2 separate regions of the Homo sapiens genome follow, and region 2 is linked to region 1. The links come from fine-mapping of genetic effects on plasma protein levels. Region 1 holds a variant in brackets. A gene starts in the other region. All regions are shown on their reverse strands. Region 1 holds the start of LOC105372262 (a long non-coding RNA gene). Region 2 holds the start of ITGAM (integrin subunit alpha M).

What was found. PIP is the chance, under the fine-mapping model, that this variant and not a neighbour inherited with it causes the effect. Protein levels are from antibody-based Olink assays in UK Biobank. Linkage for the fine-mapping came from a reference panel and not from the study's own genotypes, which makes the PIPs less certain.
Region 2: ITGAM starts here. The variant in region 1 is fine-mapped to the plasma level of the ITGAM protein (UK Biobank, PIP above 0.99).

What each region holds. Positions count from the first base shown.
Region 1 is chr19:7,702,593-7,712,379 of GRCh38, reverse strand. LOC105372262 (a long non-coding RNA gene) reads left to right here and starts at 5,146. Exons shown (of 5, transcript XR_936296.2): 1 at 5,146-5,402; 2 at 5,886-6,135; 3 at 6,444-6,563; 4 at 7,478-7,588; 5 at 9,259-9,300. RefSeq lists an enhancer at 6,815-6,884. The variant C/G (reference allele first, on the strand shown) is at 5,093.
Region 2 is chr16:31,250,713-31,260,499 of GRCh38, reverse strand. It overlaps ITGAM (integrin subunit alpha M), which reads right to left and starts at 525. Exons shown (of 30, transcript NM_000632.4): 1 at 408-525. The coding sequence starts at 435. RefSeq lists an enhancer at 669-768.

The sequences.
Region 1 (9,787 bases):
TTGAAACCAGCCTGGCCAACACGGTGAAACCCGGTCTCTATTAAAAATACAAAAATTAGCCCGTGGCTGCTCACGCCTGTAATCTCACGATTTTGGGAGGCCTGAGGTGTGAGGACCACTTGAAGCTAAGAGTTGGAGACCAGCCTGGGCAACAGAGCGAGATTTGTCTCTACAACAACAAGGCCAGGTGCGGGGCACACCTGTAATACTAGCACGTTGGGAGGCCGAAGCGGGCAGATCACAAGGTCAGGAGATCGAGACCATGCCGGCCAACATGGTGAAACTCTGTCTCTACTAAAAATACAAAAAATTAGCCAGGTCTGGTGGCGTGTGCCTGTAGTCCCAGCTACTTGGGAGGCTGAGGCAGGAGAATTGCTTGAACCCAGGAGGCAGAGGTTGCAGTGAGCCGAGATCGTGCCACTGCACTCCAGCCTGGTGACAGAGTGAGACTCCATCTCAAAAAAAAACAAAAAAGTTTTTTTAATTAGCTGGATGTGGTGGCACATGCCTATAGTCCCAAGGTACTCAGGAGGCTGAGGTGGGAGGATCCCTTGAGCCCAGGAGTTGGGAGGTTGCAGTGGGCTATGATGGTGCCATTGCACTCCAGCCTGGGTGACAGAGTAAAATCCATCTTAAAAAAAAAAAAAAGGCACTTTGGGAGGCCGAGGCGGGCGGATCACGAGGTCAGGAGATCGAGACCATCCCGGCTAAAACGGTGAAACCCCGTCTCTACTAAAAATACGAAAGGGCCTTCTTATGTGTACCCCATCTGTCCTGTCCGACCAGACAGAAACTTAGTCCTAAAAATAAAAATATTTTTTAAAAAACTTTTTCTGAGATAGAGTTTCACTCTGTCATCGAGGCTGGAATGCAGTGGTGCCATTGTAACTCACTGCAGCCTTGACCTCCTGGGCTCAAGTGATCCTCCTACCTCAGCCTTCCGAGTAGCTGGAACTACAGGCACACACCACCATGCTTAGCTATTTTGTTTTTGTTTTTGTTTTTTGTAGAGATGGGTGTCTTGCTATGTTGCCTAGGCTGGTCTTGAACACCCGGCCTCAAGTCATCCTCCTGCCTTGGCCTCCCAAAGCACTGAGATTACAGGTGTGAGCCACCATTCCTGGCCAAAAAAAAAAAATTTTAATTAGAAAAAAAAGAAAAAAGAAAAATTTGGCTGGGTGCGGTGGCTCACGCCTGTAATCCCAGCACTTTGGGAGGCCAAGACAGGTGGACCACCTGAAGTCAGGAGTTCGAGACCAGCCTGGCCAACATGGCAAAACTGCATCTCTACGAAAAAATACAAAAATTAGCTGGGCGTGGTGGTGCATGCCTGTAATCCCAGCTACTCAGGAGGCTGAGGCAGGAGAATTACTTAAACCTGAGAAGCAGAGGTTGCAGTGAGCCGAGATCATGCCATTGCACTCCAGCCTGGGCGACACAGCGAGACTGACGAAAGAAAAGAAAAGAAAAGAAAGGAAAGGTAACATAAGGTAAGGTAAGGAAAGGAAAGGAAGAAAGAAAAAAGAAAAGAAAAGAAAGAAAAAGGAAAGAAAGGAAGAAAGAAAGGAGGCAGGGAGGGAAGGAGGGAGGGAGGGAAAGAGAGATAGAAAGGAAGGAAGGAAGGAAAAGAAAATTGTCATGGTGAAATGTTGGGGTTCAGGTCATGGTTGCTGCCCTCCTGGGGCCCACAGTCTGGCAGAGAGAGGAAGAGGTGGTGAGGACAGATAGAGGGTGTGCCCACGTGGTGAGGTCTGACATGAACAATTCTGGAAAAGCAATTCCCCCTCCACGGCATTTCCGGCCTGGGGAGTGGGGTACAGGGAGAGAAAGTAGGCTCTGCCCTGAAGAGACCAATGGGGGTTTGTGCTGGAAAGCAGGGCATGGAGGCAGAGAGGGGCACCTTCCAGCCACTCCCTGATTCTTTTTACGGGGTGTCCCCACCACTAGCCCCCTGAGTGACCACAGGGCAACTCTCTCTGGGGCTCGGTCAGCAAATTGCTGGTGACCTTGGAGCCCAGCTAGGGTTTCCTGGATAGAGCAGCTCCATGGTGATCCCACTTTCCAAAGTCATGTCTTTCAGACAGAGTAGTCTGTTCTTATCAGCCTCCCACCCCTCTCCCCCTGATCCCAGGAAACCCCCTCAGATCCCGAGGGCTTCTTCCTAGGAAGGCTGGGGAGTGTGGGGAAGTCCCCAGGGTGCTCTCCAAAGAAGCGGGGGCAGACAGAGTCTCCTCGTCAGGCCTGTCCCCCAAACCCCATGAGGATTCTTACCTTTCCCGTGTCCCCAGAGTCAGACACAGCTCAAAAGGATGAATGTAGCAGATGCCAACAAAAAGCCCAGAGTTTGGGCCGGGCACGGTGGCTCACTCCTGTAACCCCAGTACTTTGGGAGGCTGAGGCGGGTGGATTATTTGAGGCCAGGAGTTCGAGACCAGCCTGGCCAACATAGGGAAACCCCGTCTCTACCAAAAATTAGCCGGGCATGGTGGTGCATGCCTGTAGTCCCAGCTACTGTGAAGGCTGAGGCATGAGAATCGCTTGAACCTGGGACACGGAGGCTGCAGTGAGCCGAGATCAGGCCACTGCACTCCAGCCTGGGCAATAGAGCGAGACTCCTCTCAAAAACAAATAATAATAATAATAACAACATCTGTCTCCTAGGGTATAGTGGTCAGCTGAGTAACACCTCCCCAAAGATGTCCACATTCTAATCCCGGGAACCTGTGAACAGTTTACCTTACATGGCAAATGGGGCTCTGCAGATGGAATTACGTTAAGGGTCTTGAGATGGGAGATCACTCTGGATTATCCAGGTGGCCCAATGTCATCACAGAGTCCTTACAAGAGGAGGCAGGAGGATGAGAGTCAGAGAGAGATTGGAAGAGGCTGTGCTTCTGGCTGTGAAGATGAAGGAAGAGCAGGACATGTGGGCTCATGCCTGTAATCCCAACGCTTTGGGAAGCCGAGGCAGGAGGATTGCTTAAGGCCGGTAGCTGGGGACCAGCCTGGGCAACATAGCGAGACCCTCGTCTCTACAAGAAAACAATTTTTTTTTTTTTTGAGGTGGAGATCTTGCTCTGTTGCCAGGCTGGAGTGCAGTGGCACGATCTCGGCTCACTGCAACCTCTGCCTCCTGGGTTCAAGTGATTCTCCTGCCTCAGCCTCCCGAGTAGCTGGGATTACAGGCATATGTCACCATGCCCAGCTAATTTTTGTATTTTTAGTGGAGATGGGGTTTCACCATGTTGGCTGGGATGGTCTCGATCTCCTGACCTCGTGACCCGCCCACCTCGGCCTCCAAAAGTGCTGGGATTACAGGCGTGAACCACCACACCCGGCCTACAAAATAATTTTAAAATTAGCTAGGCAGGTGGCATGTGCCTGTGGTCCAAGCTACTCAGGAGGCTGAGGTGGGAGGATCGCCTGAGCCCAGGAGGTCAAGGATGCAGTGAGCCGTGATCATACCACTGCACTGCACTCCAGCCTGGGCAACAGAGTGAGACCATCTCTCCAAAAATAAAACAGAAAGGCAGGCCATTGTCACTGGAGGGGCATACAGAGGGGGCAATACAGAGGAGAAGGTGTCAGCCACACAGGGCCTTGCTGGCTGCCGGATTGGGAGCTGCTTAATTATGTGAGAGATATTTTTCAGGAAATTGCACTAAAAATGCTCCCATTTTTAGAGCCTCCCTATATCTGGCATTGGGCTGAAGGCTTTACGCACACAGCAACCTATGTGAGAGATTTTACAGACGAGGTTATCCCCATTTTACAGATGAGGAAACTGGGGCCCAGAGAGGATTAAGTCACACAGCAGGTAAAGGGGTGCAGCTGGGCTGGGAACCCATGGCCTTTAGTTACCCACATCAGGGGTTACACAGTGGTGGCAGTGACCAGGTGTGTCCAGCAAAGCAGCAGCACCCGCCACTGTCCTGGCAGACCCAGAAACCGGCATGAGATCAGCAGGGACGGAGGAGAAAAACACACGATCCCACACCAAAGTCCCTAGGGGGTCTGGGGGCCTGGGTCCCTGAGGATGAGGTCTGGAGGCCTGGATTCCTGGGTCTTTAAGATATTAAGCCTCACTCACGCCTGTAATCCCAGCACTTTGGGAGGTCGAGGTGGGCGGATCACCTGAGGTCAGGAGTTCAAGACCAGCCTGGCCAACTTGGTGAAACCCCATCTCTACTAAAAATACAAAAATTAGCTCGGTGTGGTCGTGGGTGACTGTAATCCCAGCTACTCGGGAGGCTAAGGCAGGAGAGTCGCCTGAACCTGGGAGGTGGAGGTTGCAGTGAGCGGAGATCGCGCCACTGCACTCCAGCCTGGGCGACAGAGTGAGACTCCATCTCAAAAAAAAAAAAAAGAGGCTAAGCCTGGGTCCCTGAGGATGGGGTCTTGGGGCCTGGCTTCCTGGGTCCCTATGGGGCTGGAGGCTTTGGTCTCTCAGGGATTGAGAGGCTGGAGTCCCAACCTCCTGGGTCCCTGAAGGGCTGGGAATTTGAGTTCCTGAAGATGGGGTTTGGGGGCCTGTCTTCCTGATCCTTAGGGAACTGAGCCTGAGTCCCTGAGGGTGGGGTCTGGGGGCCTGGCTTCCTGGGTCTCCAGGAAGTTGAAGCCCCGGGTCTGTGAGGGTGGAGCCCGGAGTCCAGGATTTCAGAGTCTCTGAGGGCGTTCTTGGAAAGAAATCCCCAAATCTCCCAGGCTGGGCCTGGGCTGCTCTCAGAAGCCTCAGGACCTGCTGGCTCAGCTCTCTGGTCCCTAGAAGTATCCTGGGGCCTTGAGGGGAGGGGGCAGGGAGGCAATGAGTGGTCCAGGACCCCCCTCCTGGAGTTCTGGGGGGCCCTCTGGAGGGAAGGGTGTGGACAACCCCATCTCTGCGTCCCCTCTTAGCCTGAGGACTCCCAGCCACACATACCAGTGCCCCCAAGCTCTCCCCACCCCACTGCCACAATCCACACCAAAAAAACAGCCTAGGTTTGGGCTCCAGATCCCGAGGTTCCCGGAAGACAAAAGTGCACATCCAGGCTCTTCTCATCCCACACACCCCTTTCCTCTTCCTGTTGACTGGCTCTCTGCCTGAGTGGGGGTC[C/G]GGAAGCGGAGGGAAAGGGGTGCATGTGACTGTGATTCAGGGCCGCCCTCCTGGCCCTTCTAGGAGTGGGGCATAGGTCCTGCCCCTGGGGAGCCCCCAGTCCCAGGAGGGGCCCATCCAGTGCAGGAGCTCAAGGCTGGGAAAAGAGGGGGCCTTAGGACTATGGGTGGCAGGGAGGCTTCCATACAAATTGGTGCTGTGGGTTGGCTCAGCACTTTAGGCAGCAGCTGCCCGTGCGAAGGCTTGGAGACAGCCTGGTGTTTCAGAACTGTGTGAAGTTAAGGCACTCTGTGGAGTCTTGGAGGAAGAGGTATGGGCGTGGCTGGAGAGACCAGCTGCCAGGCCTGAGCAGGCAGGACCCTTGAACTCCAGGACATGGGAAGCTGGAGCTTTGGGCCCAGGGCAGAAGGGAGCCATGGATGGTTGTAGGCAGAGAGAAGATATGGGCAGGTGGTTGCCGTTCAGGGAAGACACAGAGGAGGGGTTTCAGGGAGACCCTAAAGGAGGCTGTCATGAAGGTCTGGTGGGGGTGAGGACCCTAAGGGGAGCTCTCATGGGGGCTGGAGTTGGGTAAATAGGGAGTGAGTGTTTCATGGGGACACGGTTTCAGTTTGGGAAGATGAGAAAGTTCCGGAGACGGATGGTGGTAATGGTTGCACAACAGTGTGAATGTGTTTCATGCTCCTGAATGGTGCACTTAGAAATGGCTACGATGGTAAATTTTATGTTATGTATATTTTGCCACAATGAAAACAAAATAAAGCGTGATCTAGGAATCATGTTTTCAAAGCAGCGCTTCTCAACCACGGTGACTCTTTCGGCGACTAGTGGCCAGAGATGCTTCTAAACATCCAACAATGCACAGGACAGCATCCCAGCGAGGAATCATCAGTCCCAAAGTCAACAGTGCAGGGTGGGAGAGACCCAGCTTTGAACACACCTCCTCCTGGAAGCCCCCCTGGATTTGACACACCTACTGCCCTTCCTCCCCACCCCTGCACCCTTTCCTTCTCCCCTTCGTAACCCCAGGAGAGGTTAAACAGGTAGGAAAGCCCAGGGCTGTGTCGGGATGGGGTTAGAGTCAGGGTCGCCAGGCTCCATCTCGTTGGGACACAGCGCCAGGCCCTGTCCCAGGTGTGGGGGTTCTGTGATTAGAGCCGCGGACGTGCCTCCGTCCTGTGCAGAGCAGAGGTTAGGGCTGGGATCAGAGCATCGTGGGGTGAGGGGATCAAGTTGTAGTTGAGCTGGGGTTACGGTCAGGGCCGGGGCTGGGATGAGAGCTCAGCTGGAGATGGTTGAGGGTTGTTGTTGCTGGACACCCTAAACTCCTTCCTGTTGAATTCTGACCTAGGTCAAACGAGGAGCGAGACGCGGCCTCCCCCAACATGCAGAGGATCCCAAATCTGAAAGAAGAACCGACACCCACAGATCTGGGGCCCACATCCGCACAATTTTCTGTTTTTCCCCCGAAGTGAGCAAGAGGCGTATTAATACCGCAGAGGGGAAGCGGGTGGGGCAGTCCCGTGACTGGGTCCTTGGGGCCCCAAAGCATCCTAGTGTTTGAGCTGAGTCTTGGCAGGAACCCAGCAGGCAGGGGGCTTTCACCCCTGGGAAGGACATGATGGGGCCGGTGGGGTTGGGCTGGGGCACCTGGGCTTGTAGAACTCAGAAACACCAAATTCCAGCTGGGCACAGTGACTCATGCCTGTAATCCCAGCACTTTGGGAGGCTGAGGCAGGAGGATCACTTGAGCCCAGGAGTTTGAGACCAGCCTGGGCAACATAGTGAGACCCCATCGCTACCAAAAATTTAAAAAATTAACCAGGCGTGGTGGTGCGTGCCTGTGGTCCCAGCTACTCAGGAGGAGAAAGTAGGAGGATCTCTTGAACCTCAGGAGGTTGAGGCTGCAGTGAGCCGAGATCGCACCACTGCACTCCAGCCTGGGAGACAGAGCGAGACCCTGTCTCTAAAAAAAAATATGGACAATTTTGTTGTATAGTTTAATTTAGTAGCAATGGTTGCTGGGCACAGGAATTTGTTTGTTTGTTTGTTTTTTGGGATCGCCCAGGCTGGAGTGCAATGGCGCAATCTCAGCTCACTGCAACTTCCGCCTCCCAGGTTCAAGCAATTCTCCTGCCTCAGCCTCCCGAGTAGCTGGGATTACAGGCACCTGGAACCACTTCTGGCTAATTTTTGCACTTTTCGGTAGAGACGGGGTTTCACTGTGTTGGCCAGGCTGGTCTCAAACTCCTGACCTCAGGTGATCTACTCGCCTCAGCCTCCCAAAGTGTTGGGATGACAGGTATGAGCCACCACGCCCAGCCGGACACAGTTCTTAGTGACTTGTGTGCATATTAACACATCTAATTTTCACCACCACCCTAGGAATTAGATGCTTTGGTGATCAATGCTGCCTTATGTGAAGCACAGAGAGGTTAGGTGACTTGCCAAAGGTCACACAGCACTTCAATGGAAGAACCAGGAATTTGAACACAGGTAGTGTGGGTCAGGCATCTGCAGCCCTAGCCACTATGCCACCTAGACTTCTATATACTAAGACCCCTTGGCACTTTGCCCACCCTCCTCATCCTTCCCAAAATGTGTCCCCTGATCCTTAACACCCTCCCCACTCTCAACTGGGGAACTCCAAATCCCCACTCCTGGGTGGGCTACCTCCCATGTCTCTCACTCCAGAAGACACCCCCCTGTGCCCCTACAACCCACCTCCCAACCAGGAGGGGGCTGGGCTGGGCCATCCACTAGGGCTGGACGTTCCCACTGTGTCAGGGAGGGGCCTGGCTGAAATGTCCCCTGGACCCTGCACTCCAGAACAGCTGGGACCATGCTGCCTTGTCTGTCACCCTGGACCGAGTGACCCTTGGTGCATGCCTGTTGAGTGAATGACTGACTCTGGTGGTCTGAGGCTGTTCATTTTGGGTCCCAAAATGTCCCCTCCACCTTGATCTGGGGTAATGGCCGAGGACCAAGATGGTAAAGAAGTGAGGGAGGGTCCGGGTGCGGTGGCTCATGCCTGTAATCCCAACACTTCGGGAAGCCGACGTGGGTGGATCACTTGAGACCAGGAGTTCAAGACCAGCCTGGTCAACTTGGTGAAACCCCATCTCTACTACAAATACAAAAAATTAGCCAGGTGTAGTGGCGCGTGCCTGTAATCCCAGGTACTTGGGAGGCTGAGGCAGGAGAATCACTTGAATCCGGGGAGGCAGAGGTTATGGGGAGCTGAGATCATGCCACTGTACTCCAGCCTGGATGACACAGCAAGACTCTGTCTCAAAAAAAGAAAAAAAATCAAAAAGGAAGGGAAAGAGTTGGCCGCTGAGCATTGGAGAGGTGGCTGGGGGCTGCTGAGTGGACATAGGGACAGCATTTGAGGCCAAGCCAGGGTGGGGTCACTGGGGGATTAGTCTTGAGGGCAGGTCGGGTTGGGGATCCTAAGGGGGGGTCTGCCGTGGTGGCCAGGTGGGAGTGAGGACCCTGGAGGGTCTGTTTTGGGGGGCAAGACAGGAGGTAGAGCCCCAGGGAAGGCTGTCATGGGGGCAGGATGAGAGTGGGGAGGCCATGGAGGAGGCAGTCCCAGGGACAAGGCAAACCAGGCAGGGGGAACCCTAAGAGGGGGATGTCACCTGGTCCAGGGGGAAGAGGGAGCAGCTGTGGGGATGGGGAGAAGCAGGTTATTTTTTTGAGACGAGCCAGGCGCGGGTGCTGGGTGAGCGGTGGGGTGGAAGATCGGGAAGTGCTTGGACAAGGCCTGGACCTGGGCCGGGGTGTCTGGGTGGATGGACGGACTGTCCCACCAATGGGGACACACGAGGAGAAGGAGGAGGAAGCTTGGGAATAAGTCCAGCTGGGCCATGTTGTGAGGACATGGGGATGAAGTCTTAGTTCCAGGATGGGGCTGGGATGGAGTTTGGTGTTTCTTTTCTGTTTTTCTTTCTTTTTTCTTTTCTTTTTTTTTTTTGTGAGACAGAGTTTAGCTTTTGTTGCCCAGGCTGGAATGCAATGGCGCGATCTCGGCTCACCGCAACCTCTGCCTCCCGGATTCAAGCGATTCTCCTGCCTCAGCCTCCCGAGTAGCTAGGATTACAGGTGCCCACCACCATGCCCAGCTAATTTTTTTTTTTTTTTTTTTTTTTTTGTATTTTCAGTAGATACAGGGTTTCACCATGTTGGCCTTGAACTCCTGACCTCAGATGATCCACCTGCCTCGGCCTCCCAAAGTGCTGGGATTACAGGCGTGAGCCACTGTGCCCGGTCTCTCTCTCTCTCTTTCTCTCTCTCTTTCTTTCTTTCATCTCACTGTGTTGCCCAGGCTGATCTTGAACTCCTGGGCTCAAGTGATCCACTCACCTCTGCCTCCCCAGTAGCTGGGATCACAGGCATGCACCACCATGCCCTGCTAGTTTTTATAGTTTTTGTAGAGACAACGGCTTGCTATGTTGTCCAGGCTGGTCTTGAACTCCCAGGCTTAAGTGATCCTCCCACCTCAGCCTCCCAAAGTGCTGGGATTACAGGCGTGAGCCACCGTGCCCAGCCAAAACTGTCCATATTTGACCTGAATATTATCTCACGTATCTTTCTTTCCCCCCGCTTCCCTCCTTCCCTCCTACTCCTCCTTCTCCCTCTCCTTCCTTCTGTCTTTTTTTTCCCCTTCCTCTGCCTCTCTCTCCTCTTCCC
Region 2 (9,787 bases), not on the chromosome of region 1:
TTCAACAAACATTTGCACCCGGGACCTTGGAAAATAGAACCGGAGGCAAAGTGGAGATGGTGAGAGGGGATCCAGGAGGAAGCACTCAGGAAAGGGGTCTCACACCTGCTGCGCACCCTGAGCCATGTCACTTCTCCTCCCTGGGCCTCCGTCTCCTCATGTGTGAAGCAAGGGGACCGGCAAGCAGCCTTGCACAGTCCATGAATGTGGTCATTCATCCAGGCTTCCCTGGCCAGCCTGTCTGGGTCTAGCTGTTCTCCCTGCTTCTTCTTGAACCCTTTCTCCTTCCCCAAATCCCCTTTGCCTCTCCCCAGACTGACTCCTACATATTCTGGGCCCTCTATTTATGACAGACCCAAAAGTTACCCTCCTCCCCACCCAGAGTCCCCCACCCCACCCCCATGCACCTGTTAACAGAAGGACTCTGAGAGCCATGGCTGGAAGGAGCCAGAACCTGGAAGGAGGTGAACCAGGGGTTGCAGGCACCACTGAGGAACCACAAGGAAGCCACCAAAGCAAAGAAGGGCAGAAAAGGAGAAGTAGGAGGCAGAAGTCTATCAGAGATTCAAAGGAAGAGGGCGGAGGCTCAGTGAGCACATAGCCCTGCCTGGTCTTCCGCCCAGGACTGCCCACAGCCTGCCCACCCTTCCTCCCCAGCTTCCTGACCCAAACTTTCAAAGTCAATACCACTATCCAAAAGGTGCCATTTGTCACCCACTTGTTTCTTGGGTTGGCCCAAGCATATGAACAAGCTGAACAGACTTAGCCTGCCTCCTGGAATTCGTGTTCTAAACATTAATACGGGCCAGGCGCAGTGGCTCACGCCTGTAATGCCAGCACTTTGGGAGGCCAAGGCAGGAGGATTGCTTGAGCCTGGGAGTTTGAAACCAGCCTGGGCAACATAGAGAGACCCTGTCTCTACAAAAAAATATTTTTAATTAGCTGGGCATGGTGGTGCGCGCCTGTAGCCCCTGCTACTGGACAGGCTGAGGTGTGAGAATTACTTGAGCCCGAGGTCCAGGCTGCAGTGAGCTAGGATCACACCACTGCACTCCAGCCTGGGCAACATAGGGAGACCCCGACTCTACAAAAAAATACATTTAAAAAATTAGCCAGGCATGGTGGCACATGCCTGTAGTCCTAGCTACTCCAGAGGCTGAGGCAGGAGGATTGTTTGAGCTCAGGAGTCTGAGACTGCAATGAGCCTCAATAATGCCACTGCACTCCAGCCCAGGTGACAGAGTGAGACTCTGTCTCAAAAAAAAAATTAAATAAATAAATAAGCAAACATTAATACAGATCAAACAAGTGTAGGAGGTAAAACTCTGTGTCTTCCTGAAAACACACTTTGCAAAATGTCCCTCCTTCAGCCCATGGAAATGGAAGCGCCCTTCAGCCAGAGCTGTCCTCATTTGTAGCCATCAACAAAGACAACTCAAGTACAGGCATACCTGGTGCTTTTTAAATATTATTTTGTGCTTTTTTTAGAGACAGAGTCTAGCTCTGTTGCCCAGGCTGGAGTGCAGTGGTGTAATCACAGCTCACTGCAGCTTCAATCAACCTCCTGGGCTCAAGCGATCCTCCTACCTCAGCCTTCCGAGTAGCTGGTACTACAGGCACATGCTGCCATGGCCAGCTAATTTTTTTTAAATTTTTTGTAGAGACAAGATCTTGCTATGTTGTTCAGGCTATTCTCAACCTCCTGGACTCAAGTGATCCTCCTTCCTCAGCCTCCCAAACTGCTGAGATTACAGGTGTGAGCCACTGCATCCAGCCTATTTTTGTGTGTGTGTGTGTGTGTGTGTGTAAAGGCCTCAAGCTCTTCACCCAAGAATTTTCACTTCTAGTAATTTATCCTAAGAATAGTTAAGAAGTGTAGTCAAAAATATATGTACAAACTTGGCTGGGTGCGGTGGCTCATGCCTGTAATCCTAGCATTTTGGGAGGCTGAGGCGGGGTGGCTCACTTGAGGTCAGCAATTGAAACCAGCCTGCCCAACATGGTGAAACCTCATCTTTACTAAAAAGACAAAAAAATTAGCCAGGCGTGGTGGCAGGCACCTGTAATCCCACCTGGGAGGCTGAGGCAGCAGAATCACTTGAACCCTGGAGGCGGAGGTTGCAGTGAGCAGAGATTGTGCCACTGCACTCCAGCCTAGGCGACAGAGCAAGACTCTTATCTCTAAAAAAAAAAAAATATATATATATATATATATTTGCAAGCTTGTTCATTGCAGCATTATTGTTAATATGAAAAGCTAAAAAAACCTGAATATTCAACAGAGGAATGGTTCAATGATACTTCACTCTGTGATATATCCTTACCCTCCCCTGTGTCTGTCACTTTTAATTCTGTTTTCAAAGGCACAGGAAAATAGGTATCCTTCCACACATACATGGAACACAAACCTCACCTTTATGTGACCGCCAATGTGATTCTCAAGCCAATGATTTTTTTCACTCTTTCTCAACACATTTTCTTTTTTTTTTTTTTTTTTTTTTTGTGAAACGGAGTCTCCCTCTGTCGCCCAGGCTGGAGTGCAGTGGCGTGATCTCAGCTCACTGCAACCTCTGCCTCCCGAGTTCAAGTGATTCTCCTGCCTCAGCCTCCCGAGTAGCTGAGAATACAGGTGCTTGCCACCACGCCTGGCTAATTTTTTGTATTTTCAGTAGAGACAGGGTTTCACCATTCAACACATTTTCTTTTGCCTCTAGTTCTACTTTCCCGATAACTAGATGGAAAAAAATGCTTGCTGGCTGAAAAAAAAAAAAGCAATTAAAATTATGTACATTTGGTTAAAAATTATCTGTTTATAATTTTTATATATAGCCAGGTGTGGTGACTCCTGCTTGTAATCTCAGCACATTGGGAGGCCAAGGCAGAGGGATCATTTGAGCTCAGGAACTCAAGACCAGCCTGGGCAACACAGCAAGACCCTGACTCTACAAAAAAATGTTTAAAAATTAGCTGGGCATAGTGATGCACACCTGTGGTCCCAGCTACTCAACAGGCTGAGGTGGGAGGATCGCTTGAGCCAAGGAGGTTGAGGCTGCAGTGAGATATGATTGCACCACTGCACTCCAGCCTGGAAAACAGAGCCAGACCCTGTCTCTAAAATATATATAGGCAGGGCATGTAATATATACAGGCACGCCTGTAATCCCAGCACTTCGGGAGGCTGAGGTGGGAGGATCACCTGAGATTAGGAGTTCAAGACCAGCCTGGCCAACATGGTGAAACCCCATCTCTACTAAAAATACAACAATTAGCCAGGCGTGGTGGCAGGCACCTGTAATCCTAGTTACTTGGGAGGCTGAGGCAGGAGAATCACTTGAACCTGGGAGGTGGAGGTTGCAGTGAGCTGAGATTGCACCATTGCACTCCAGCCTGGGCAATAGAGCTTGACTCAGTTTCAAAAAATAAAAAATTAAAATTAAATAAATAAGTACATACATACAAAAATAAATCATATATATATATATATATATATATATATATATATATATATATATATGCAGGAAAACCAAATGTTAATAGTCGTTATCTCCAAGATAGGAGGATTACAGGTATGTTCCAGTATCTATTGCTGCAGAGCGAGCTACTCCAAAACTTCATAGTTAAAAACAGCAGCATATTATAATCTCTCGCGTATCTGTGAATCTCCTGGCCTCAGCAGTTCTCAGCGGGGTCTCTCACATGATTGCAGTCGGATCACAACCAGGGCTAGAGTAATCCAAAGCTCAGTTGGGCTGGGCTCCCAAAATGGGTCACTCCCACAGCTGGCAGTTGGCCGTGGGCTAGGAGCTCAGTTGGGGCTGTCACCTGGGCACCCCCACGTGCCCTCTCCATGTGGCTTGGGCTTCTCGCAGCATGGTGGCTGGACTTCAAGAGCAAGTGTTCCAACAGACAGGAAGCAGAAATTTCCAGGCTACTAAGGTCTTGATCTGGAAACTGGCGCCAAGTCATCTGCACCACATTCCATTGATCAGGCAGTCACAGAGCTCATCCACATTCAAGCAAAGGGGACACAGATCCCACCTCCCAATGGGAGGAATTTGTGGTTGTATTCAATCTGCTACAAGATGACTTTAATATTCTTTTCTATATCATTTGTACTTAAAATATTTATATAGGCTGGGTGCAGTGGCTCATGCCTGTGATCCCAATGCTGTGGGAGGCCAAGGCAAGAGGATCACTTGAGCCCAGGAGTTTGAGGCTACAGTGAGCTATGACCTCAACACTGCACTCCAGCCTGGGCAACAGAGCAAGACCATGTCTCAAAGAGAAAAAAAAAAAAGACCTTTATACAAAAAAAAGACTCATAATCATAAAAAATACCAATAGATAATTTAAAACAACAGGTTACCTGTATTTGTTAGCAGGTAAAGAAGCTGAGGAAAGGACGAACGAAGTCATGAGCCCAAGATGAGAAGATACCAACCAGGGTGCCCGGGGAGGAGTTTAGTAGATCAGCTGGGTTTGCTTTGGGAAAAGTTTTCACACTCTGGCCACTATGGGGGCTGCTCGAACTCAGACGTGGAGGCCCCTCCTTGCCCTGAACAGTGGCCAAGGGTCCACTCTCTGTAAAAACATAGGCAAGATCTCAGACTGGCTGTCCAACCTGCAGAGGCTTTCTCAATGAGCCACCACCAAGTGTGCACCTGACCTGGTGACCGTGGGTGGGGACATATCTATAAGCTGTTGGCTGTTCCCTCCTACCTGTCCCCCATCCCCACTCTTGATAAAATCTTAGCTTGATTTCCCCTATAAGTGGACTCTGAGACAAGGCTTCAAGTGTAAGTAATTTATCTGGAAGGTGATTCCGGAAACACTGGTGGGAAAGTGAGGAAAAGAAGGAGCTAATGCCAGGCACAATGGCTCACTGCCTGTAATACCAGCACTTTGGGAGTCCAGAGTGGGAGGATCGCTTGAGCCCAGGAGTTCAAGACCAACCTGGGCAACATAGGAAGATTCTGTCTCTTAAAAAAAATTTTTTTTTAATTATCTAGTGTGGTGGTATGCACATGTAGTCCCAGCTACTCAGGAAGCTGAGGCAGGAGGATCACTTGCACCCAAGGGGTCGAGGTTGCAGTGAGCTATGATCATGCCACCATACACTGTACTCTAGCCTGGGCAACATAATAAGACCCCGTCTCTTAAATTTTTTTAATTAAATAAATAATTAATTAATTAAACATTAATATGTATCAAACAGGTGTGGGAAATCAAACTATCTCCCTGAAAACGCACTTCGCAAAATGTCCCTTGGACATTTTGAGCCCAAGTGTTGGAGGCTGCAGTGAGCCATGATCACACTACTGCACTCCAGCCTGGGCAACAGAGTGAGACCTTGTCTCAAAAAAAAAAAGAAGGAAGAAAGAAAGAGCTTATAAAAGATATGTAATTAAACAAATTACTGGCCGGGCATGATGGCTCACGTTTGTAATCCCAGCACTTTGGGAGGCTGATGTGGGTGGATCACCTGAGATCAGGAGTTCGAGACCAGCCTGGCCAACATGGCAAAACCCGTCTCTGCTAAAAATACAAAAATTAGCCAGACATGGTGGCATGCGCCTGTAGTCCCAGCTACTCGGGTGGCTGAGACAGGAGAATGCTAGGAACCCGGGAGGTGGAGGTTGCAGTGAGCCGAGATCATGCCACTGCACTCCAGCCTGGGCAACAGAGCAAGACTTCATCCTCAAAAAAAAAAAAAAAAAAAAAAAAAAAAAAGATTATTGACCTGGTGCAGTGGCTCACGCCTGTAATCCTAGCACTTTGGGAGGCTGAAGTGGGTGGATCACTTGAGGCCAGGAGTTTGAGACCAGCCTGGCCAACATGGTGAAATCCCATCTCTACAAAAAATACAAAAATTAGCTGGGCATCATGGTGCATGCCTGTAATCCCAGCTGCTCGGGAGGCTGAGGCATGAGAATTGCTTGTACCCGGGAGGCAGAGGTTTCAGTGAACTGAGATTGTGCCACCACACTCCAGCCTGGGCAACAGAGCAACACTCCATCTCAAAAAAAAAAAAAAAAAAAAAAAAAAAAAGAATAGAGAGATATGTCATCTTCATGGATGACAAGACTACAAGACTACAGATGTCAGTACAGATGTCGGTTCTCCATTTAATTACTCAAATTCATTATAATCTCACCCAGCAGAATTTTTCTAGAATTTGACGTGCTGATTCAAAAATTGACTGGACTAGAAAACACACAGCAATAGCCTATAAAGCAATGGGACATACCTTACAATGTCATGTTATTCCATAACAAGTACCCTATCAAAGCAATATTCTAAAGCCACAGTAGGTAAAAGTACAGTGTTGGCTCTGGAATAAGTATATAAGACCCTCGGAAAGAATACAAAATACGTATGTAGAAATCTGGTGTTCCCATCAGAAACAATACATTTCTCCTACTGAAAAAGCAAACAAGACTTTCTTTGATTCCACTCCCCTCATCAACCACTGCCCATTTTTTACTTCCCTTTTGCAAAACTTCTCCAAAGTAGTTGTCTGTGTTGGCTGCACCCTGTTCTACTGCTCACATCCTCCCTTAACCCCATTCCAACCAAGCCTGTGCTCCAACCCGGCACCTACTCCACCTAAACTATTTTTATCAAGGTCACCAAGGCTGCCTGAGTGACTCCAGTGATGAGTTCTGTCTTCATCTTGAGTGACTCAGCAGCAGCTTCTGACACTCGGCCCTCGCTTCCTGGAACTGATTTCTACATCTGTCCTCTGACCCCACACTCTCCTGCTTCCCGCCTACCGCCCATGACCCTCCTTCTCAGTTTCTCTTGCTGATTCTCCTCTTCTCCCAACCTCTTCAGAAGGATCTCAGAGCTCAGTCCTTTGACTGCCTTTTTTCTTTTTTCCAACTCCTGGGTTCAAATGATCCTCCCACCTCAGCCTCCTAAATAGCTGGTACTACAGGCATGCGCCCCCATGTCCAGGTAATTTTTCAATCTTTTTGTAGAGACGGGGTCTCACTAAGTTGCCTAGGCTGGTCTCAAACTCCTAGCCTCAAGCCATCCTCCCACCTCAGCCTCCCAAAGTGCTGGCATTACATGCGTGAGCCACCGTGCCCAGCCGAAGTCAATTTTCAGTACAGCAGTCAGAGGGATTGTTTCAAAACACAAGACATATCATGCCACTCCTCTGCTCAAAACCTTGCAAAGGCTCCCACGTTACTGATAGTAAAAGCCAGTCCTTTCTACAACCTACAAGGACCTGCATGACCTGTCATCCCAACCCCAGCCCTTACCTCTCTGAGCTTACCTCATTTTCTGGGACAGCAGCCACCCTGGCCTCCTTGCCATTCCTCAAACCTGCCAGGCACACCACCACCTGAAGGCCATGGCACTGGCTGTTCCCTCTGATGGAACCAATCTTCCCCCAGGGATCGGCAGGCTCACTGGCCCACCTCCTTCAAACAAGTGGGTTTTGCATCACATGACTCTCTATACTCAACTTCGCAAACCTTCTTTGCCACATTCCTCAACATTTTCCAGTTTTGCTCTCAGGGGAATGAAGGTATCAGGTCTTCATCGTCCCTTTTCCTGCACAGCACCCAGGGTCACGGCTTCTCTCTTCCCAACAAAATCTCCCAGTCCCACCTCTCCAAATTTCCTTCCTTGTCTACACAGACAAATTATCTCCGTCTGAGCTCCTCCAATTTGCTTCGCTCACCACACTCGAAGAAACTTGCTACAGGATCCGCCCTCCTGAGAAAGTTGTGGGAAGAACAAGAATAAAATACTGTTTTTCCATTGCACTGGATTGTCAAGAAAAGTTCCTGTGATCCTGTCAGGCCTCTGAGCCCAAGCTAAGCCATCATATCCCCTGTGACCTGCATGTATACATCCAGATGGCTTGAAGCAACTGAAGATCCACAAAAGAAGTGAAAATAGCCTTAACTGATGACATTCCACCATTGTGATTTGTTTCTGTCCCACCCTAACTGATCAATGTACTTTGTAATCTCCCCCACCCTTAAGAAGGTACTTTGTAATCTCCCCGACCCTTAAGAAGGTTCTTTGTAATTCTCCCCACCCTTGAGAATGTACTTTGTGAGATCCACCCCTGCCCGCAAAACATGGCTTTTCACCCCCTATCCCAAAACCTGTAGGAACTAATGATAATCCACCACCCTTTGCTGACTCTCTTTTCGGACTCAGCCCGCCTGCACCCAGGTGAAATAAACAGCCTTGTTGCTCACACGAAGCCCGTTTGGTGGTCTCTTCACATGGACACGTGAGACAACCCCAGCTACCCAGGAGGCTGAGGTGGGAGAATCACTTGAGCCCAGGAGATTGAGGCTGCAGTGAGCTGATTGCACCACCGCACTCCAGCTTGGGCAACACAGCGAGACCCTGTCTTAAAAAAAAAAAAAAGTAAGAAAAAAAAGTTCCACCTGAGTGTCATCCTCAGCCATCTGGTTAAGCCTTTGGGTCTGGAATCAGACTAAGGGCACTAAAATCCTAGGTCTACGCCGGGTGTGGTGGCTCACACCTGTAATCCCAGCACTTTGGGAGGCTGAGGCAGGTGGATCACCTGAAGTCAGAAGTTTGAAACCAGCCTGGACAATATAGCGAAACCCTGTCTCTACCAAAAATACAAAAATTAGCCGGGAATGGTGGCACATGCCTGTAATCCCAGCTACTCAGGAGGCTGAGGCAAGAAAATCACTTGAACCCAGGAGGCGGAGATTGCAATGAGCCAAGATCACACCACTGCCCTCCAGCCTGGGCAACAGAGCAAGATCTCATCTCAGAAAAAAAAAAAAAAAGAATAAAAATATCCTAGGTCTATAAGTATGCCCTTGAACAACTTACTCTCTGGACCTCACTGTCCTCATCTGGAAAATGGGGGCAATAATTGTACTAACATCTTGGGGTGATTGTGATAGTTAAATGAGATAATAATAGATGTCAAAGTGCATGTAGTCAACATTCGCTGTAATCATTCTACCAACTGTGTTGGGTTGATGGATGACCTGGCCAGCGCACCCTCGATGACACACAGAGGTAGGTGGCTGAAAGCTGCCTGTCGCTCAGTGGGAAGCATTCTGGATGCTTCCCTTGCCACCTCAGTTGTCCATGCAGCAGGCCAAATGTCTGGCAGGCCAAGGAAATTGTTCTACCACAGGCTTTGTGAGTCCCAGGTGTTTCGACCAAGGTCACACAAAGAGCATGGTTGGCCACAGGTGACTTGCAGGGCAGCGACAGCCATTTCACCATCTCTAAGTTCTTGCCTCCCAACCTTGAAAGGAGGAGTTGCTCAGGGCCTAACCTGAGCAGGGCAGGAAACAAAACTACTAATTCCTGGAATAGGCTACTTGGTACTCAGTAAATCTCATGTTCTACTTGTTCTGTTGTTTTTCCCCAAAAGGCCCTAACTGATGTGTGACTTAACAGAGTTTTTGTAAGGGTTAAATTAAATAATGCATGTGAAAAGCTTAGCACAGTGCCTGGCATGTAAGATGCGCCCCCACCGGCAAAGATGATTATTTGTATTGGTGGAGACTAAGGTTCAACTGTTGTAATAAGACCCAAAATCACAGAGGCTTAGCCCAGACAGTCCTGTGATGGCCCCAGCATCAGCATTTGGGGGTTACGGAGGCTCCATGGTGTTGGAGATCCAGGCTCCCTCCAGCAGGTTGCTCTGCCATCCTGAGGGTTTTGTCTTCATCCGCCTGGTCAAAGACGGCCCAGCGCCAAGTCCACCCTCGGGCTGACAGGAAGGATAAAAAGAAGTGGTGCCTGGCAGGGAGTGGTGGCTCAC